Regions from separate parts of the Homo sapiens genome. Here regions 1 and 2 are each linked to region 3. The links come from fine-mapping of genetic effects on plasma protein levels. Region 3 holds a variant in brackets. A gene starts in each other region. All regions are shown on their reverse strands.

Region 1 (5,000 bases), not on the chromosome of region 3:
GCCTCAGCTACTCGGGAGTCTGAGGCAGGAGAATCACTTGAACCCAGGAGGCGGAGGTTGCAGTGAGCTGAGATCGCGCCACTGCACTCCAGCCTGGGCGACAAAGCAAGACTCTGCCTCAAAAAAAAAAAAAAAAAAAGGCAATAATCAGGCTCTTTCCTTTTTAAGGGAAAACATACAATAATAAACTTTTCTTACTGAGTTATGAGGATAAAATAAGATATAAGAAGCAAAGTAACTTTATAAACAGAAATGAGTCTTATTCTGTTATGCTCACTGGCTGAACAGAGCAGCATTAAAATTCACATTCAACAACCCTCGGAGTTTTGCCTGCATTACCATATACTTTAAAGTAAAATTGAGGCTCGGTGCTAGCTCTCAAATGCATCACTTTATGTCCATATTTTCCCAAAGTGTGAAACATGCCAGTGTGGTACCTACAAAATATTAAGTGGCTTATGGATATGCAGCAAATAACCCCATGTAGTAAGGGGTACTCTTTCAAAATCTCTTGCAATCTCTTTCATTAAGGAAGATAACTCCATTTACAGCTGGTATAGCCTTAACACTTTCCCAACACTTGCTAATTTCCCCTTTGTAACAGAAAGACAGTATTTAATACAATTTCATAACTTTTTAATTTGTTTGTTTTTTTTTAATGATTACTCACCCATTTGTGGCAAGTGGCACTGGCTTCCCATTCACCATAAGGATTTTGTTTCAAGGAAATTAATTTAATTTTTAAATGGGACATAGCTATACAAAAAAACACATCTAGTAATCAAAAGTTCAAGCAGTACTGCCATTAGGCAAAAATCCCGAAAGTGGTACACGGTAATTTAACGTTGAGAAAACGACTTCATGAAATTTCTTTTTTTTTTTTTTTTTTGCGCGGGGGAGACAAAGTCTCGCTCTGACGCCCAGGTTGCAGTGCAGTGGTGCAATCTCGCCTCAAAGCAATCTCTGCCTCCCGGGTTCAAGCGATTCTCCTGTCTCAGCCTCCTGAGTAGCTGGGATTACAGGCACCTGCCATCACGCCTGGCAAATTTTTGTATTTTTAGTAGAGGCGGGGTTTCACCATGTTGGCCAGGCTGGTCTCAAACTCCTGACCTCAGGGGATCCTCCAGCCTCGGCCTCCCAAAGTGCTGAGATTATAGGCCGGAGCCACCGCGCCCGGGCTCATGACAATTTTCTAAGGCAGCACAGATGAAACAAGGAAAGCAGGAACCAGGGTCCAAAACCATGTCTCTCTACTCTAAATTCGATGCTCCTTCCACTACACTGATGGCTTTCACAGTTTACAGTGCATGCAAATCACCTAAAGGTCCTGTTCACAGATCACAGATACCGACCAAGTAGGTCGGGGTGGGGCCCGAGAATCTGTATTTCTAGCGAGCGCCCAGAAGTAGCGGAGGCTGCTGGTCGTCGGGCTACCCTTTGCCTGGCAAGGCCCTGGGCAAAGACTACAAAGAGAGAGACTCCCGGAGACGCTGAATTTTCAGTGTCGCCAACTGTCCTCGACTCGGAACGCTGGCCGCACCTGCCGTGACATCACTGCACAGGGGTGCAATTGCGTCACTCCCCAGGCGTCACTGCCGAAACAACCCCTGTCCTCCTGTCACTCTCGCCGCTAACTACAGACCCCGCCCCGCCCGCCAGCGCCCCGGAGGCCGAAGTCACGCAGTCGCGCTCCGTCGCAGGCCTGTGACGTTACGAACCTCTCCCCCGTGACCTCTTCGACCCAAACCTCAAGCGAAAATTCCCTAGCTCGCTAGACCGGCGCAGGACTGTGACTGCGCGCCTCCTTTTACCTGAGAGGGACCGCCGGGCCCCCGGGCGCAGCCGCCAAAGGCGGGGAGCCGCCGCCGCCCCGGCGCAACTCATTGCCGGAACTAAAAAAAGCAACCACTTCGTTGAACGGAACTGGCCAATAGTGCCCTTGGCTCGGACTGATGACGCACAGCAGACGTAAGGAAGGCTCAGCTCGCCCGCGCACCGGTGGGAACGCCCCCTAGCTCTGCGCTAGGGGTTAGATTGGTTAGATACGACAAATAAAAAGATTTTATTGGGTGGGGTCACTGTCAATCACTCGGAAGACCAAGGCCAAGGCGCCTTGGGTTGCCAGGGAGATGAAAATGCTAAATTGCTGTTTAGAAAGATCAGGACAAGGTTATGATTTCTCACCCAAGTTCCTGGGGAAAAGGATCATGAGGGAATTACTTATTAACAAGGCACGGTATTTCCTGCTTTACCTACGTGGAAGGAGATTTTTTTTTTTATTTGTATCCTACATCTACTTTAAAATAGTAAGCCTGGGCAACATAGCGAGACCCCGCCTCTACAAATAATTTTAAAAATTAGCCGGGTCTGGTGGAGCACACCTGTAGTCCCAGCTACTCGGGAGGCTGAGGTGGGGGGATAGCTTGAGCCCGGTAGCTCGAGGCTGCAGTCAGCCGTGATTCTGCCACTGCACTCTAGCCTGGGCCCTGTCTGAAAAATAAATAAATAAATAAAATTATATGTATATCTAAATTACATGCACCACATGGTTAATGGTGTTATATAGTGTTATCTCTATTGGTGGGCTGAAAGCCAACTTTAAACTTCTTCCCGGTCTTTTCTCTATTTTCAGAAACAGAGAACATGTTTTATCCTTGGTATCCACCTTAATGTACTGTGTGCATGTATGCATGTATATTTGTGCAAATTGGAATTTTTTGAGAAGGGAGGGGAAATTTAGCAACATACTTTAAAAAGATCATATAATACAGCAGTCTTACTTTTAGGAATCTACTCAACGAAATAATTTTTAAATGAGTAATGTACATGAGGGCAAAAATCAAAGATGCGTGTCTGCAAGGATATACAACGTTTAATATTGGCAACATCAGGGGGCTGGAACTGGGAGAAGGGAGCTTTCACTTTCTACTTTACACCCTTGGATTATTTATATACTTTATCCAAGTTTACCATAAAATATTTTAAGATGGAATACAATTGTAAAATTATTGAATTCAAGTTTTTAGTTTTTATATCACTCTAGTGTTCAAATTGACACACCAAAATAATTTAAAATTATGATGAACCCAAATACTACTTAGTGAGGATGTTGTAGCACTCTCATGTAAAACTACTGAGTGTCTGAATCTGGCGCTCAAAAGCCTTAAAATGTTCAAAACCTTTGCTGTAATACCACTTCTAGGTCTCTGTTTCCTTTTTGTTTTGTTTTTTGTTTTTGTTCTTTTTAAATGGAGTTTCACTCTGTCGCACAGGCTGGATTGCAGTGGGGAGACCTTGGCTCACTGGAACCTCTGCCTCCCGGGTTCAAGCGATTCTCCTGCCTCAGCCTCCCAAGTAGATGGGATTACAGGTACACACACCACCACGCCCAGCTGAGACTGGGTTTCGCTGTGTTGGCCAGGCTGGTCTCAAATTCCTGACCTCAAGTGATCCTCCCACCTTGTCCTCCCAAAGTGCTGGGATTATAGGCGTGAGCCGCCACGCCTGGCCTAGGTCTCTGTTTCTAAGGAGAAAAAATGTTGACAAAGATTTATAGATGTGCCCATTATTTATTACTGGGAAAATTTGGAAACAAAATGTTAAGCAACAATTGAATATCAAAACATCATGTCCGAGTGCAGTGGCTCACGCCTGTAATCCCAACACTTTGGGAGACTGAGGCGAGAGGATCACTTGAGCCCAGGAGTTCAAGACCAGCCTGGGCAACACAGTGAGATTCCATCTCTACAAAAAATTTTAAAAATTAGTCAGGCATGGTGGTGTGTGCCTCTGATCCCACCTACTTGTGAGGCTAAAAGGATCACTTGAGCCCAGGAGGTTGAGGCTGCACTGAGCCATGATCACACCACTGCACTCCAGAGTGGGTGATAGACCTAGACTCTGGCTCAAAAAAAAAAAAAAAAATCCAACTGTATGATGTTATGTAGCCCATTGAAATGTTTGTAAAGAGCTTTTAATAACAGGAGAAAACACTAGATTCTTCAGGAAAACACATATTAAGTGAAAAAGAAATTAGAATACCAAAGTTCTTTCCTTCTTTTTCCTTCTTTTTCCCTCCCTCTGTACTTTCTATCTTAAAAAGAATTTTGCCAGGATTAACAGTGCGTGCCCATAAGTGCTGCTTTTTAAGTTTTTTTCTCTGTTGCTTTTGATGTTCTCTGTATTTGCTATAAAAAACAAGTATTTTTATAATGGCAAAACAAAATTTAAAAAACAAAAATGCATACTATTCCCTAATTCCATCCCCCTACCCACCAAATTATCCATTAAAAAAACTAGTTCCAGCCAGGCACGGAGGCTCACCCCTGTAATCCCAGACTTTGGGAGGCCGAAGTGGAAGGATCACTTGAGGTCAGCAGTTCAAGACCAGCCTGACCAACAGGGCAAAACCCCATCTCTACTAAAAGTACAAAAATTAGCTGGGCATGGTGGCACACACCTGTAGTCCCAGCTACTTGGGAGGCTGAGGCAGGAGAATCACTTGAACCCAGGTTGCAGTGAGCCGAGATCGCACTACTGCACTCCAGCCTGGGCAATAGAGTGAGACTACATCTCAAAAAAAAAAAAAAAAAAAAACACAGCCAGGCACAGTGGCTCACGCCTGTAATCCCAGCACTTTGGGAGGCCGAGGCGGGCAGATCATGAGGTCAGGAGATCAAGACCATCCTGATGAAACCCTGTCTCTATTAAAAATACAAAAAATTAGCCGGGTGTGGTGGTGGGCGCCTGTAGTCCCAGCTACTCGGGAGGCTGAGGCAGGAGAATGGTGAACCCGGGAGGCAGAGCTTGCAGTGAGCCGAGATCGCACTACTGCACTCCAGCCTGGGCAATAGAGACTACATATTAAAAAAAAAAAAAAAAAAAAAACACGGCCGGGCACGGTGGCTCACGCCTGTAATCCCAGCACTTTGGGAGGCCGAGGCAGGCAGACCACCTGAGGTCGGGAGTTTGAGACCAGCCTGACCAACATGGAGAAACCC
Region 2 (10,008 bases), not on the chromosome of region 3:
GTGACGTATGTAAATTTCCACGGTCAACAGTTACCCTAAGTGTTAGTGCTTAATCTCAAGAACTCCAGATATCAGGAAAATGTACTCACCCAAAATACTCCCTTGAAATGAGCCACTTCATACCCTACAGCCCCATAGCCCTCCATCCTGCCCTGCACTCAGATCAGCTCAACCCATCGGACAGGTTTAGACTTCAAGTTTAGACTTCAGTTCCCCTCAGCCTCAAACTGTCCCACCTATTTGCAGTCCCCCACACTACAAGGAAGGCTGCACAGCATCAGATTTCCTAGGGACTTCTGGGAGGCCAGAGGGAACTAGAGGAGGCCGCACTAAATAAAGAACTCTCTTAAAGACAAAGCAGCTTCATTACTTTCTAATATAGAAACTAACTGCTGAAGACATGCTTATAAGAAAAGGACCCCGGGCTTTAATGAAGAGATCAGACTCATTTACAATTATCCACATCCAATTTGAAGGTAAATCGTTTTTCTAAATTAAGACAACTAACACCCCCCCACCCGCCACACACACACACACACACACACACACACACACACACACACAAATCTTTTTTGCTTTACTATTTGCTTAATGTTTTCCCTCAGTGATAGATCCCATATCTGAGTCATCTATCACGCTTTTCTCATTAGAGCAGGTTTGGCTTAGAAATAAATCCCCTGCCTTAGGCTGCCAAACCTGCCAATTCGCTAGCTAAACGGTCGCAGGGAGGGCCCTGGGCGCTGGAATTCAATCCCCTCCCTTCTAGTGTGCCCCCACTCGGGGTCCCCACCTCCCTCCACCGTCGCCCGCATCTCCTCTCCATCCCACCTCACCCCCCACCTCCCTGAGGCTTCCCAAGCCCAAACTGCCCATCCCAATTCCCTCCCCACCCCCAACACCTATTCACCCCGTGGCCCCTGCCAGCCGTCTCTACCTGTCCTTCCCGGAATCTGACCCCTCATGCTGCCCACGGCTGCCTGTGGAAGTGCACCAGTCGCCCACACCTTCGCCCTGCTGGGCCCTGCAGAGTGGACACGCCTAACCACTCGCCTTCCCTCCCCGCCGCTCCCCTCCCGGAGCTGGGCGTTTTCCTCTGCAGGACCCGAGACCCCGCTAACCTCCCAGCGCCGGCCGGTGGCTTCGTTAAGCTTCAACACGGGACAGATCTGCCCCCATGCCCGCTCCAGACCCGGGGCCTGCAAAAGCGCATTCACCCACCCGGCCCGGTCCGCAGCTTCCGGGGTCTGCAGGTCCGACGGCGCCCGGGCCCCTCTCAACCCGAGGAAAGGGGGGCGGGGTAGGATCCGGGAGCCCCCAGCTCTCCGCGGGCCCCACAGCCCAGGGCAGGAGGGGCGCCCGCGGTTCCCGGGACTCCTGTGCGAGGGGGGCCGCCCGGACCTGGGGGAGGGCAGGGGAGCAGGAGCCCGGAGGGAAGGCGCCCTGCTCAGCTCCTGCAGCCCTGAGCGGGAACGTGCGGACCTCCGCGGGATCCAGGCCCGGCCCGCAGCAGACAAAGGCCGCCCCACCCCGCGCCGCCCGCGCCACGCCAGCACTCACCGCGCCGCGCCGACTCTGGGACTCAGGGACGCGGCCCAGCCTGGCTCAGTCGCCGCCGCAGCGAGGCCCGGCCCGAATGGGGGCCGGGGGCGGCCCGGGGAGTCCGAGGGGCGGGGCGGGCCGCGCCGGAGAATCCGCCTGAGGCCCGGAAAGGCGGCTCCGGTGCGTCCCTGAGGCCGGATTGGCCCCGCGGTGGCGGCTGCTGACCGAGGCCTGAGCCAGCCCGCTGGGCAGAGCACACGGCCTGGCCCCCGCCCCCGCCCCGCCCCGCCCCCAGGCCTGACCCTGGCGGGGAAAACCCTCGGCTCCCGGAGCAGGGCGCTGCCCATCCCCCACCCCGTTCCCACACTTCCAAGAGCCGAATCTTCCTTTCTGCGAGAGGGGATAGGTGACTGACTGGTCATCGACTGGCGGCAGAACAGGGCTGGAATCCTGCTGTCCAACCCCAGTCTTGGGTTCTTCCTCCACACCATGCTGGCACCACAGCCCAGAAAGGGTTAACTCGACTGCGAGGAATTAAGAGCTGCAAGGAGCTCTCTATAAATACAGTGTCGTGGGCGCCTGAGCCAACCGCAGGACAATTTCCACTGAGCTGGTTTTCCTCTTTTCCTTCCACCCACGGCCATCCGACCAGCCCTGCCCCCAGCCCCACCCCAGACTGCTGGCCGGACTTGGCTCCAACAGGCCTGACACCTAGTGGCCTTGGGCTCTGTCCTTACAGGGCCCCGCTCCAGCCTGGGAGGAGATGGGGGTCGGGCCTGTCCAGATTTTGCTGTGGTGCAGCCCATCCCTGCACCTGTTCTTGGATCTGTTCTTCCTCACAGGGACAGTGACAGCTAAAACGTAGGGAGACTTTTGTGGGCCAGAGTTAGGTTAGGAGCTTTCCATGCTGGGCCTCTTTAGTTCCTCCAAACAGCCCCGCCGGCTAGATATTATTATTCCCATTTCACAGATGAGAAAACCAAGGCTCAAAGGGATGAAGGGACTCCAACCTTGTACTGCTGCCAGGCTCACCACCAGTGCCAGTGGCAGTACTGGGCAGGGCTTGGGAAATGAGTATGAAAACATGTGCGTCTCTCTGCATGTGTTGCCACTGTTGTAAGCTCTTTACCATTTTATCTCATTTAATCTTCACAACAACTCATTGAGGTGAATACCATTATTCTCATTTTTACAGATCGGAAATAAGGAAATTAAGATACAAAGAGATTAAGTAACTTGGGGACACATAGCTATGAAGGGAGGAACCGGGATTTGCCCTCTGAATTTAAGTGTGCGTGTGGTGTATGGGTAGGGGTGGTGGTGCATGGGTGTGTATATTTGTGGGGGGTTTTTGTCTTTTTTTTTTTTTTGAGACAGAGTCTGGCTCTGGAGTGCAGTGGCTCAATCTCGGCTCACTGCAACCTCCGCCTCCTGAGTTCAAGCGATTCTCCTGCCTCAGCCTCCAGAGTAGCTGGGATTACAGGTGCGCACCACTATTTTGGCCAGGATGGTCTCGATCTCTTGACCTTGTGATCCACCCGCCTTGGCCTCCAAAAGGGCTGGGATTACAAACGTGAGCCACCGCGCCCGGCCGGGTGTGTATATTTGTGAACACATTCAAGCAACTCTGTATTTGAGTCTACGTGCATATGTGTCTTTGAATCACACAGCAGCTGTGTCTGTGTAATTGCTGACTGCTCCTAGGGATGACAGCAGAGAGGCCCAGCTGTCTTGTCCCTGACCACCTCCAGGAACTCTGGACCATTCCACGCTGCTCCCCACTGCCCTGCCAGGCCCTGACCAGCCTCGTCCAGCCTGGGTCTGGCCTTACAGGTCTCAGGATGAGTAGCCTCCAGTTGGCCCAGCAACCTGGGGAAGTAGCATCACATGGAGAGGTGTCCTTGGGCTGAGGGAGCTAGGAGCCCTGCTGCAGGACCCTGGAGGTGGCATTGAACAGATCTAGAGAAACTTACTTTCCTTCCCTTCACAAAGAGTCAGTCCTGTGCCTTGTGCCTTGCGGTGGTGACGCTGGTCCTGTCCTAAGGGATTTATAATCTGGCATGACTCAGCCATGGTGGACAGTGAAGGAACATCACAGAGCAGTTTATAGTGTGTCTATGGGGGGAGATTTTAAAATAATCATTCAAGAGCAGAGGTCAGGAGGGAAGGAAATGTGTATTGGCTCTCATTCCTGGAAGCAGCAGATTGAGAGGGCTCTGATCCCCTAGGAGGGGGAAACAGCTTGGGCAGGGCACAGATAGCACATGTGTAGGACCAGCTCATCTGAGACTCAGACACTTGGATCTGGACACAGATAGCTAGAATGACCATCCCATCATGCAGGGGTCTCCTTGGTTCAGAGAATGTTTGCCTGATTGTCCCTGGGAACTCAGGAATGGAGGTGCTACACAGAGATTCCCGTCAGAACCAGAAAAACTCAGGATGGAAGGTTGTCTTCATGCATTCTTTCTGGACAGCAGCCCTACCCCTCTCACCTCTATCCCTCCCACCCCCCACCTCCCCACAACCTGCTTCCTAGGTCAGCACAGTAGTAGATGACTCAGAATGTGCTATCTCCAGTTTTGCTTCAAGTTCCCCAAGGAGGTCACAAACCAATCCCAAAAGACCCAGATTGGGACAAGCCTTATCCCACTTTTTATCTACCTACCATCCTGCAGGTTCCTCAAATTCAACATGTGCAAAATTGAATTATCACATGTCCCCAAAACCTGTTTCCCCTTCTAGATATACAGGAAGGACTATGCTCAAAACCTGGACTCATCCCTCGTTCCCTCCCACTTCCCCCCACTTCCCACTGCCAATATCCAGGCAGGCTTGAAGGGGTGCCCTAGAATATGTTAGGAATCCCTCCCTTTCCTGAATACCCTACTGCCACACCATCCTCATCTGAACCCCCATCACTCCTCACTGGATTGTTGTTGAAGCCTCTTAACTAATTCTGCTGACTGTGACTCCTCAGTCCATAGCTGCCAGAGAGAGCCTTCTAAAGCGCAAATCCTCCCACAATGTCTCTTGCTTACCTGAAGCCCTTCAGTGTTCTCATTTGCCCTTAGGCTGCTAGTTGTCCACTAAAATTAATTCTCTACTTCTTCCTTACCAACAGAGTGTAGCATTTGTTCTAAGAAGTTCTATGCCTAGTTGAAAATACGTGGGTTCTCAGACCCCCTTGCAGCTAGAGGCAGTCACGTGACCCAGTGTGGCAAATGAGATGGAAATGAAACTCACTGATTGAGGCTTTGGGGAAAGCTTGTTAAAGGAGCAGCCTTGAGCTATGGAAACCAGTCTGGTAGTTCCTCAAAAAATTAAAAATAGGCCAGGCAAGGTGGCTCACACCTCTAATCCCAACACTCTGGGAGGCCAAGGCGGGAGGATCACCTGAAGTCAGGAGTTCAAGACCAGCCTGGCCAATATGGTGAAACCCCATCTTTACTAAAAAAATAATAATAATACAAAAATTAGCCAGGCATGGTGGCGCTCACCTGTAGTCCCAGCTACTTGGGAGGCTGAGGTAGAAGAATCACTTGAACCCAGGAGGCGGAGGTTGCAGTGAACTGAGATCATGCCACTGCACTTCAGCATGGGTGACAAAGTGAGACTCTGTCTCAAAAAATAGAAATAAAAATAGAACTACTATATGATTCAGCAATTCCACTTATGGGCATACCTCCAAAGAATTGAAAGCAGGGTCTCAGAGAGATATTTGTACACTCATATTCTTAGTGGCATTACTCACAATAGGCAAAATGTGGAAGCAACGCAAGTGTCTACATCTCCAGATGAATGGATAGGCAAAATGTGGTGTATCCATACAGTAGAACATTATAACTTTCCTCAGGGCAGAAATTATGACTGAAATTAGGAGAAAACTTCCTTTTGCCTCCTTTGACATGCAAAAGGGAAAGTGTCTCTCTCATCTATTTAAATACACTTAGATAATGCAAACTGTACAGTGTAAGCTATGGAGATATTTCTGTCTTTTTAGAGCAGCTAAGCAGTCCATCTCATAGAAAGCGGCTCAGAAACATTGAGATGCCTCTCCTAAGAATGATACTGAAAATGTATTCATTTTGACTGCTTCCATAAGAAACAAAAATCAATTCTTGGCAGTGTCAGGGATTTAAGGCCCAAGTGGCGATTGGGGATTTTATCGAGGATCCCTGCGACACTAAGCCAATACCTTGGCACTGGCCTCCCTTCCCTCAGGCTGGTTGGTGCATATTACTTCCCAAGTTGTTTGCATTTTTAGGCCTCAAATCCTTGATGTCTTGGCAAAAGCCACCCACCCGCACTCCACTCTGCCCACTCACTTAGGACTCATAGGGTGCCATCAGGAACCATTCCATCCAGCCTAGACTTAAGGCAACCACATTTCTCTCAAATGACTGAATCCGGTGTAAAACTGAATATGGTGCATAGCAACCACTGCAGGTTCCGGCTTCCTAGTTTCTTAGTCCTGGGAATTGAGTCTTGGAATAGGCTTCAAATGTCTAGAACCAACTACTGCCAGCTGGAAGCATCTGGCAAGCAAAATAACAGGAGCAGCCTAATGAAAGAGGAGCAGGTCCTCCAGGGAGGATCGCCTGGGAACACTCCGTAACCCTAAGGCCCTAATACACACACAACAACATAACGAAAGAGCTTCTAAGCAGTCTTTTCTAACTAGCTGCTTCTATCTGACTCACCAGCCTCTGCTCTTCTTCCCTGTTCACCCTTTCCATTATCTGTCTTCCTCCCCATCCCCGGTGAAACTGAACCATTCAATCCCCTTTCCCTTTCCAATTTCTTTACTATAATCTTGGCTGACAACACTCCCAATACCGGGAAGCCATTTCAGAGTTTGTGTCCTGCTGCTGGTGAGTCGGAAGGAAGGTGGCAGGTCCTCCAAATAGGAGGGTTGTACAGAGTTTAAAAAACAAAACAACAAAACAACAGAACAAACTAAAAACAGCACCATGCTACCAGGGGAACTCTTCTATCTCATTGGGAGTTGTTTTTTTCTAATAGCTCTCACATGCAAATAATTGAACAGGCTCCACCCTTGCGCTGACCTGAAAGTGAGCACCTCCTTCAGTTTTGCATCATAGGTGCAGGTACCTCATGCTCGTCCTGGCCCTGCTCCTAGGCTTGCCCCAAGACAGGCTCAGAGAAGCAGGCACTGACCAGAACAACTAAGGGTTCCTGCTAGATGAATAAGATCGAGTGCCCCTGGCTTGGAGAACAAGGGGCCCTGCCTCACAAGCCAGTGGTGATGGCCCTCTTAAGGAAGATAGTGGATAAACCATATGGAATCCAGAAATCTGAATTTCAATCCAGGAGTTTAATCCTTTTTTATTTTATTTTTATTTTTTAAGAGACGGGATCTTGTTCTGTCACTCAGGCTAGAGTGCCGTAGTGCAATTGTAGCTCACTGTAGCCTTGAATTCACCCCTGGGCACAAGAAATCCTCCTTCCTCAGCCTCCCTAGTAGCTAGGACTACAGGAGTAAGCCAGGTGCTGAATCTTAAGTGCAAATATTGCTGTTTTCAGAGTCACAGGGTCTCTTTGTGGTATTCGTTTTCAGCTGGGTTTGTGACATTATGCCTAGGCATCTTCAGGGCACCTTACCAAAGGGACTCAAGGGAAGGTTTAACTGCCCCAGTGGTGAGAACAGTTTATCTAATCTTCCTTAATGGAGCACTCTTAACCTGCAGTTCTTCATGTCAACCCTAATCCCTGAGGCAGGACAACTGACTGCAAATCCCTGCCCTTTCTCTCTCCCTGGCTTCTCTCAGTCCACTCCCCCTCTTCTCCTGGAGATAGGCATTTTGCAGTGAAAGTGACCCTTCTTGGGAACATGTCTTGGCTGCTGCTAGGTCTCCACTTGGGTTACTGGTGCTAGGGAAGAACCCAGTTCGAGACAATCCAGGCCACGAAGCAGGATGTGTGAATCGCAACATCCTCAGTCAGTGACCAAGGCTCAGTTCTCTTGCAGTTTCCTTCCCACCCTGCTTCTGCCACCAGACATGGGGCTTCCTGCCCACTGGCCTACCTCTCCCAAGGTTACTACATGAAGTATGGGGTATTATATCTTATTAGCTTAACTGCTTCTTCCATTATTGTGGTTAGCAGTTGCTCATGAATACAACCTTGCGTTTGTTTTCTTAAAACAGGACTTTCAGCTAAATGACATGTGTGGCTCCTGTTCCTTCCTCAGTTTTCTTGATGAGACCATCACAAACATAACTTCAAAAGAAATCCTTTATAAGCAGACTTTCTGCAGGAACCTGGCACCTTCACAGGCAAACAGGGATGGGCTCTGGGTTTCCAAACAGGAACTTGAGCAGCAGCACTGATGCCGTCCACTCAGGGAGATGTGCAGCCAGATGTGTGGCTTCTGAGGAGTGACTCCAGCTGGAGTTTCTCCCCTCACCCTAGTAGTTCCTTGACCAGCCCTTCATTATTCTTTAGGGTCAGCATTGCTGTCAAAATGTGGCCCGTCTCCATCACCCTCCACCCCTCCATAAATATTCATGTAGTCCAGTTCCTCCCAGCTTAAGAGGAGGGAGTCTATCAGAGGTTGTCCTCTCAAACTGGACCAATCCACTTACTTCCCTAAGCCTCCTCCAAGGAGCAGGTGCCAGCTTCAGCCTTGGTCTGTTCTGATGTGTGCTGCCCACAGTGTTCTCCACTTGGCCCAAGCCACATGTCATATCTCCCCAGGCACTTTGAGGGCTCCCTTAGGGCAGGAACTCTGGCTCATTCTCCTCCAGGCTCCTCACTCATGCTCCCTCACTCCCACCTGGGATGCTATAGCTGAATGAAGGCTTGAACTCTGGAGTGAATGCTTGACCCTGGCTGGCGGGAAGGGGCATTGACAGTACAGCAGGCTGAAAACCAGGACACCAGGACTCACCTCTCATCCCTGCCACAAACTAACCATGTGGCGGGAGGAGGTAGCTTAACCGTTCTGGGCCTTTTCCTCTCAGAGTCCTCCTAAAGCTCCTCTGCAGCCCTGAGCCACCATTTCTCACTGAGAGCATCAGAATTTCCTCCTCGGCCCTGCAGCAGACAGGACTAATGAAGCAGGCTAGCGCCATGGACAAGCGGCCTGCAGAGCCAGAAAGGAACTAACAGTCTCCAACTTCCCTACTCCTTTTCCAAGTTCTTTCCATCATGGTTGACATAGGCACTTGCTACTCTGAGCCACCTCCTGGTGATAAGTGGAAATGCAGCTGAAATGGGCTCCTGTCCTCACCTGTCCTAGGTCTCCAAGGATGCTCCTCAATGCCCAGCTTGAAGAAGGAAATGGGATGGAAGGAGAGGGGAAAGCTGTGTGGACTGAGGCTGTGGAGGTCAGGGAAGGGTTCGCAGAGGAGCTGGGTTATAGCTGACCTTGAAGGATGGGAAGAACTCAATAAGTGAAAGGCATCAGGGACCTGCCCAGGTCTGACCTTCTCTAAGACAACACACACTTGGGAAGACATCGATCTAATTACCCTGGTAGTGCTGCTTGCAGAGTCTGGCACCAGGAAATGGGTCAAGTGCAGGGGGCAGAAGGGGAAGGCCACCTCAAGAAGAGCAGGTCTGGGAGCAGAGAAAAGAGCACCTGGGCCACACCCTCTGCCTTCCCTCCTTGTGCTACCATTCAGGTCAGCCCTCCTTTTGCGCAACTTGCCTACTCAAGGACATCACGCCAGAAATTCTCCTCTCCTGCATCATCAATCTTTTCACTGTCTCCAAATCATTCACTACCTTTCTTGAAACACTTTCTGCCTCTAGAACAGAAAGTTCTTGCTTTTCTTCTCACCTTGCTGGTTGTTCCTTCTAGTCTCCTATGCTGGATCCTTCTCCTCTCCCCAACCCCTTAATGTACAGGAACTCCAGGACTTAGTACTCACACTCTTTTCTTCTGGGTCTAGACCCATTCCCTCGGTCATCTCATCCAGTCTGACGGCTTTAATACTATCTATGTGCTGAGAACGCTCTAATTCAAGTTTCCAGCTTGGACTGTATCTTTTAATTCTGTATACCCGACTGCCTACTCAACATCTTCACTAACTTGTCTTGAATCAAACTCATGATTTTCATCCTCCTGCCTACCCACTGCCACTAAAACAAACAACAAACCATTTATCCTGCAGTCTTCCCCATCTCAGGCGATGGCAACTTCATTCTTCTTTTGGCTCAGGCCAAAAACCTTGCGGTCATCCTTGATTTTTCTGTTTCTTTTTTTCTTTTCCTTTTTTTTTTTTTTTTTTTTTTTTTTGAGATGGGGTCTCACTCTGTAGCCCAAACTGGAGTGCAGTGGAGCAATCTCGGCTCACTGCAACCTCCGCCTCCAGGGCTCAAGGGATTCTCATGCCTCAGCCTCCTGAGTACCTGGGGCTACAGGCACCTGCCACCAGGCCCAGCTAATTTTTTGTATTTTAGTAGAGATGGGGTTTCACCAGGTTGGCCAGGCTGCTCTCG
Region 3 (6,855 bases):
GCCCTGTCTCTCTCCCTAGCCCATTCCTTATGTGTATTTACTTTTAAGAGAGGTTCAGGGAAGCAAACTCTCTGTAAATCATTCAACCCAGTATTTAGGTCTAATCTAACTCCCTTTCACCTGCAGCGTAAGCTCCTTTTGTATTGAGAGGTTTTAGTTTCTGTCTTTATCCTTCCATGTCCCTCTTCCCTGTGATCTTAGCATCACCCTACCCTAATTTGCTGCACTACCCATCCACTTATGCAAGATGTTTTTTGAAAGTCATTGAGGGGATCCATGTAAATATCTGTTCTTTAGGCAGGCAAGTGGTATTACATGCATTACTTTCATTGTCTCCACTTCCCTCCAAATTTTGCCTCAGAGATAGGTTTTATTTTATATCAGCTCCTTACTAAAAGGGGCCTTAGCAATAGAGCTTAGAAAAAGGTCTTGGGGGCTCTCTCCCTTTCGTATTTTTACTTTCTTGTCTCAAGAATTAATTTCATTATGGATTCATTTCAGTCTGTGATCCACTGTGAGCCCTTGATCCTTGACCATTGAGGGAAACTAGATACAGGTCAATTCTACCATCACTAGATTAGTCCAGTGTAAGAGGTAGACAATTCATGTTGAATTTTCTGGAATTACTGCAGGGGAGACCTTGATTCCTAGGAGGGAACTAAAGGGATCATCAAAGCTAAGGGTGGAGCCAAGCAAGTGGGGAGACCATAAGTGAAAAGGGGAGAGTTTGGAGCCTGATCCTACCCTATGCTGATGTCTCTTCTTATGTCTATTTCACCAGGAGACTCTCTGGGGGCCAGGCCTGGGCTTCCCTATGGGCTGAGCGACGATGAGTCTGGGGGCGGCCGGGCACTAAGTGCGGAGAGTGAAGTTGAGGAGCCAGCCAGGGGTCCAGGGGAGGCCAGGGGTGAGAGGCCAGGCCCAGCCTGCCAGCTGTGTGGGGGGCCGACAGGTGAGGGGCCGTGTTGTGGGGCAGGAGGGCCGGGTGGGGGGCCCCTGCTGCCCCCACGGCTACTGTACTCATGCCGCCTCTGCACCTTCGTGTCCCACTACTCGAGCCACCTGAAGCGGCACATGCAGACACACAGCGGAGAGAAGCCGTTCCGCTGTGGCCGCTGCCCCTACGCCTCAGCCCAGCTCGTCAACCTGACACGACATACCCGCACCCACACTGGCGAGAAGCCCTACCGCTGTCCCCACTGCCCCTTTGCCTGCAGCAGCCTGGGCAACCTGAGGCGGCATCAGCGTACCCACGCAGGGCCCCCCACTCCTCCCTGCCCGACCTGTGGCTTCCGCTGCTGTACTCCACGACCAGCCCGGCCTCCCAGTCCCACAGAGCAGGAGGGGGCGGTGCCCCGGCGACCTGAAGGTAAGACACACCAGGGACCAAAGATCTTGGGACATGGGTGGCTGACCCTAGGAATGCTTGGATTGGATTCATAGCCCAGGTCTTTGTCCCCACAGATGCTCTGCTCCTTCCAGATTTGAGCCTCCATGTGCCACCAGGTGGTGCCAGTTTCCTGCCAGACTGTGGGCAGCTGCGGGGTGAAGGGGAGGGCCTCTGCGGGACTGGATCAGAACCACTGCCAGAGCTGCTATTCCCTTGGACCTGCCGGGGCTGTGGACAAGAGCTGGAGGAGGGTGAGGGTAGTCGGCTGGGAGCTGCCATGTGTGGGCGCTGCATGCGAGGAGAGGCTGGAGGGGGTGCCAGTGGGGGGCCCCAGGGCCCCAGTGACAAAGGCTTTGCCTGTAGCCTCTGCCCCTTTGCCACTCACTATCCCAACCACCTGGCCCGGCACATGAAGACACACAGTGGTGAGAAGCCCTTCCGCTGCGCCCGCTGTCCTTATGCCTCTGCTCATCTGGATAACCTGAAACGGCACCAGCGCGTCCATACAGGAGAGAAGCCCTACAAGTGCCCCCTCTGCCCTTATGCCTGTGGCAATCTGGCCAACCTCAAGCGTCATGGTCGCATCCACTCTGGTGACAAACCTTTTCGGTGTAGCCTTTGCAACTACAGCTGCAACCAGAGCATGAACCTCAAACGTCACATGCTGCGGCACACAGGCGAGAAGCCCTTCCGCTGTGCCACCTGCGCCTATACCACGGGCCACTGGGACAACTACAAGCGCCACCAGAAGGTGCATGGCCACGGTGGGGCAGGAGGGCCTGGTCTCTCTGCCTCTGAGGGCTGGGCCCCACCTCATAGCCCACCCTCTGTTTTGAGCTCTCGGGGCCCACCAGCCCTGGGGACTGCTGGCAGCCGGGCTGTCCACACAGACTCATCCTGAACTAGGTCCTTCTTCCCCATGTTTTATACAGACGGACCAGAAGCCACCTTTTTCTCCCCCGCTGGCCAGGGGCTCCACACAGACTAACGTAGGCACTATAAGGACCAGCCCAACCCCATGGGCGGGGGGGCCCATATGGACCAGGGGACCTTGCCTTGACTGAGGCACTTCACGAGCTCAGTGAGAAGGGCCCTGTATTCACCTCCACTGCCCCCAGGGGCTGTGGACAAACCGGCTGGGGGACTGCCCAGCCTCCCACCTGTTTATTTAACTTATTTCAGTGCTTTATAATAAAGGAAACACTAACAAAGCCATGTCTATGCTGAATTGGCAATGGCAGGCAATTTGGCCTTACCCTTAGCATAGTAGTCCATGCTGTGATGGGGGAAGCAGGGGCAGTGAGAGGGAACCAGAGGTAGGCAGCAGTCAGGCTGAGTTTAATGATGGGGAACTGGGCCAGACCAAACACAGACCTCTGCCCATCCCCTTGGCCTTTGGCCCATGGCTCCAAGAGGCCAGAAGCGGCCCAGAGGGAGATATGGTTCCTCCCCAAGGCAGGCAGCCATGGTCCCTTAGACTTTGTGCAAAATACTAAATGCTAATTTGGCATCGAGGGCCAGCTCTGAAAAGAGAAGGGGCAATCCTCTGTGCAGCCAGCCCAGGGGACAAGGAAAGGTAGGATACGAGGCCCCTGGCCAAGAGAAAAGGGGTAGGTAGGAAAGAAGAAGGAAAAGACCCCTCCGCCCCTAGCATGGGGGACACAGGCACAGGGCAAGTTTCTGTAAATTCCTCTGGGGTAGAGGGCAGACATCCAAGCAGTGGAGATTACAGATCCTCATCTCCAATGCCCTCGAAGGCGAAATTGCCGTGGACATCACTGGCACTGGCATCTGTGCTGGGACTGCCAATTCCCCGCAAGCTCACGGCACTCAGCTTACTCTGTAACAAAGGCAGGGTGGGGTCAGAGATCTTGGGCGTGCAAGATCCCCCAACAAACAGCAACCTCACCAACGCTGGAACTCACTGAGAGTTTGACCATAGACTCCCGGGTGGCATCAGGTGACTCCTGGGGAAGAAGAGGCAGAGGTGTCAGAAACTCACTAGGAGAGGTGAGGCAGGGCTGAGAGCCAGGGTTCTGACCAGGAGGTAATACTTACAAGCAGTGGTGGGGACTTCACTGCTTGCTGGCTGTCTGAGCGTCTCAGAGTACCCCCCACCCGCCGGCGCAGCATCTGGGGACAGACACAAGGTGCCGGTGAGGGCAGGATCACTTCCCCTCCCTCTCAAGACAAGCCTCACATCTAGGACAAAAGGCAAGGGGAGCACACCTGCTCACTGCTCAGTCCACACTTGCTGCCTACCTTCCTGATACTGCCGCCAGATTTCTTCACCATCAGTTCATCAACCATGGACTGCAAGCAGATGCTCATCATGATAGCCTGAGGGCAAGAAGAGTGTCCAGCTTGATGAGAGTGGTCACTCTGAGCCCAGCACCACTAATGCCTCCCATATTGAGTACTGGAAACTCTACACTTTAAGGTGCTCCAGAGGAGGGCTGAGGGTAGGTTCACACCTGGGGGCTAGTGATGGTGACCCACTGTAGCCGGTCCTTGCTCATGAGGTATTCAAAAGCCAGTTCCAGGCGCACCTCACCCCGGCCCCGGCCTGGGCTGCTCGTGCTTCCACTGGGCAATGGTACCTGGGAGAGGAAGGGGAATTCGGTTGAGTTCACTCTGACCAACCTGTCTGGCTCCCTGACCCGCTGCAGCCCATACCTAAGCTCAAGGCTTGCCGGGCCCCCAACCCAGGCCCTTCCCCCTCCTAACCCGACTCACAGAGGAGGTGACCCGCCAGCATCGCATGCGGGTGACCCGGAAGGAGCCTTCTCGGAGTTGCTGGCCAGGCAGGCGGAGCTGCAGGCTGAGCTCACTGTTGCCCGCGCTCACCACCACAGGACAGTCCTTTTCTGGGAAGTCAGCCACACAGGCATCAAAGCGCAAGTAGCCATAGTGCCGCAGCGTCTGGGCCAGTCTCAGGAACTGAAAAATGGTCATCACATGGGGGTAGATTAGGAGGGAGAATGGGGCAGCTCAGAAAAAGCAACCCCGGTCGGGCGCGGTGGCTCATGCCTATAATCCCAGCACTTTAGGAGGCAGAGGCAGACAGATCACAAGGTCAGGAGCTCAAGACCATCCTGGCTAACATGGTGAAACCCTGTCTCTCCCAAAAATACAAAAAATTAGCCGGGCGTCGTGGCGGGTGCCTGTAGTCCCAGCTACTCGGGAGGCTGAGGCGGGAGAATGGCATGAATCTG[A/G]GAGGCAGAGCTTGCAGTGAGCCAAGATCGCGCCACTGCAAGCCCTTAGAGGAAGACAGAGAGGAGGCAGGGCTCACCTCCTTCTTGGAGACTTTCTCTTGCAGAGATTTGAGTTGCCGGTGCTGTTCCTTGGTGACCAAGATCCACCCACGCTCAATATCTGATACCGTCTATAGTAGAGACAAGGGGCAGGCAGTAGGAGGTCCCAGTCAGCAATCCAAGGAAAGCGTCTACCATTACCTCTGTCCAGCCTGACCCCTAGCCCCACACTTGAGCGACCTCTCTGCAGTAAGTCCTTGATCTTGTCAGCTTAATAAAAGTAGGGAGAGTAGATATTGTGCCAGCAGCACTGATAGTATTCTAGGAACTTCCCCACAAATTGGGAACAAAGACACGACAGCAGTTTTCTTGGGAGAGTGAGTCACCCGTTATTTTCTTCAGGGGAAGGGTTCTGAGGCAGCTCCAAGCTCACCTGAGCATAAAGCAGGTTCAGGCCAACCCGGTTCTCCATGACATCGTCATCATAGGCAGAGTCCCAATAACTGTGAGGCCAAGGGGTGGAAAGGGGTAATGGGGCTAAGCTGGGTTAAGGCAAGAGGTAGAATGGAAAATGGGCAAAACAGGAGCAATCTGGAACTATCAGGGGCTAATGGTATAGTGGGAGGAAGCTTGGGAGGCCTGGCAGAAACACCCAGCACTACACCCCCTTGTCCAGATTATTCTGTCTCAATATGTGGCCCAATAATCCAATCCAGCACAGCACCTCCCACCCCTCCCCTTCCAGGCCCAGCCCTGACCTCTTCCTTAGCACAATCTTATACTCTTGACTCCGAAGGCTGGTGACAGACACATAAGGCAGCTCAAACTCTTGCAACTTCCGTACAACTACAGGTTAAAAAAAAAAAAATGAAAATATAGTGAGATTTAAAGGAAGGGAAATCAAGAAAGAAGTGCCCTGAGGCAATGTTCATTCTGGGGGTGGGGGTGGGGAGTTAGGGGGGCTGCAAACTCTACTGAAGTACCCTTGTACTGCAGTCAAGTCCAGAGAAACTCACAAGAAAAGGCTCCATCCTCTTTTTCTCGAACTAAGAATAGACTAAAGTATCCAATCAAGTCATCTGGAAGATCCAGCTTTGCAGCTACAGCCTGGGGATAGGGATAGAAGTACAGCTCATCATACTGGCTGGTTCCAATCATTCTCCAAGCCCAGGACCCCAGGATGTAGGGGAAGAAGGGGCAGTGCTGAACAAGCGCCTCACCTCCAGGACATCCTCAGTCTGATCTGAAGTTAGCACGTTGACCAGAACTTTCTGCCCGTTGCTGAGCAGCACTTCCAAGGACACTTCCTCTGTGGGGACCTGCTGTGTCTCCTGTTGTGAGCACACATGGGGATGGGAAGCACTGCCTTGTCCCTTGCCTTGACCTATGCCCAACTCTATTTCTAGGTCCCTTGTGTGTCTTTATTCTCAGCTGCTTAAATATAGGCTGTGATTTCTTTGATTTCATAAGAATAGAAGTTCCATTCCATTAAAAAAGATGACTCCTCTGTTATTAAGATGACATGGCCTGGCTGGGTGTGGTGGCTCACACCCGTAATCCCAGCACTTTGGGAGGCCAAGGCGGGTGGATCACCTGAGGTCAGGAGTTCGAGACCAGCCAGGCCAACACGGCAAAACCCCGTCTCCACTAAAAATACAAAAATGAGCCGGACATGGTGGCAGGCGCCTGTAATTCTAGCTACTTGGGAGGCTGAGGCAGGAGAATCGCTTGAATCCGGGAGGCGGAGATTGCAGTGAGCTGAGATCGCACCACTGCACTCCAGCCTGTGCAAAAGAGCAAGACTCTGTCTCAAAAAAATAAAAGACATGACCTTCCAGCAAGGTCCTTTCCTTAAATCTTGGTCCCACCCAAAGCCCTACCTGTTGTGCCCGACGCAGGAAACTGTTGAAAGTCTCGCTGCTCCCAAGCAATGGGTCTTGCCGAACTACGAGGACAAGAGAACATTATTACAGGAACTTAGCACTCACTCTTGGCTCCCCAGTCCTCCTCTCAGTAGGTTCCCCCGACCCCATTTCCTGGGCTGATGGTGGCCTGCCACATCCCCCAGCTGGCCTCACCTCACTCACTGTTTGCATAAATTCTTCACCTGCCCCACCCTTGGCTGCCATCTAGGTGAGTCCAGTCTATAGAACTAGGGAAATAACAATGATGTTAATCTAAAGCACATCAGATACAAATTAAGTTCTCTCC

Alleles and levels. Alleles are on the strand shown, and positions count from the first base shown. The strength of an association depends on the size of the effect and on how common the allele is.
For the plasma level of the protein whose gene starts at base 1,935 in region 1, allele A in region 3 goes with a higher level than allele G (weak association).
For the plasma level of the protein whose gene starts at base 1,635 in region 2, allele A in region 3 goes with a lower level than allele G (weak association).

What was found. A credible set is the group of variants that fine-mapping cannot tell apart. PIP is the chance, under the fine-mapping model, that this variant and not a neighbour inherited with it causes the effect. The UK Biobank Pharma Proteomics Project read protein levels with antibody pairs (Olink). The fine-mapping took linkage between variants from a reference panel, not from the people measured, so its PIPs are less certain.
Region 1: it holds the start of COQ7, and the variant in region 3 is the best candidate, but not a certain one, in a credible set for the plasma level of the COQ7 protein (UK Biobank, PIP 0.56).
Region 2: it holds the start of CD276, and the variant in region 3 is the best candidate, but not a certain one, in a credible set for the plasma level of the CD276 protein (UK Biobank, PIP 0.53).

Annotation. Positions count from the first base shown.
Region 1 is chr16:19,064,549-19,069,548 of GRCh38, reverse strand. It overlaps COQ7 (coenzyme Q7, hydroxylase), which reads right to left and starts at 1,935. Exons shown (of 6, transcript NM_016138.5): 1 at 1,812-1,935. The coding sequence starts at 1,884. COQ7-DT (COQ7 divergent transcript) reads left to right here and starts at 1,858. Exons shown (of 3, transcript NR_119381.1): 1 at 1,858-1,968. RefSeq lists an enhancer at 1,572-1,721 and a silencer at 1,752-1,911.
Region 2 is chr15:73,676,010-73,686,017 of GRCh38, reverse strand. CD276 (CD276 molecule) reads right to left here and starts at 1,635. Exons shown (of 10, transcript NM_001024736.2): 1 at 1,558-1,635. RefSeq lists enhancers at 714-1,220, 2,238-2,746 and silencers at 1,205-1,254, 1,415-1,544, 1,555-1,684, 1,805-1,854.
Region 3 is chr2:27,372,981-27,379,835 of GRCh38, reverse strand. SNX17 (sorting nexin 17) reads right to left here. Exons shown (of 15, transcript NM_014748.4): 4 at 6,525-6,589; 5 at 5,865-5,975; 6 at 5,661-5,751; 7 at 5,403-5,490; 8 at 5,078-5,147; 9 at 4,683-4,775; 10 at 4,127-4,330; 11 at 3,865-3,990; 12 at 3,653-3,730; 13 at 3,449-3,523; 14 at 3,316-3,357; 15 at 2,301-3,230. The coding sequence ends at 3,117. It overlaps ZNF513 (zinc finger protein 513), which reads left to right. Exons shown (of 4, transcript NM_144631.6): 3 at 782-1,369; 4 at 1,465-2,601. The coding sequence ends at 2,291. Among named protein-coding and RNA genes, the nearest start is that of ZNF513, 4.3 kb to the left of the region's middle. RefSeq lists enhancers at 490-1,360, 1,975-2,134. The variant A/G (reference allele first, on the strand shown) is at 4,606.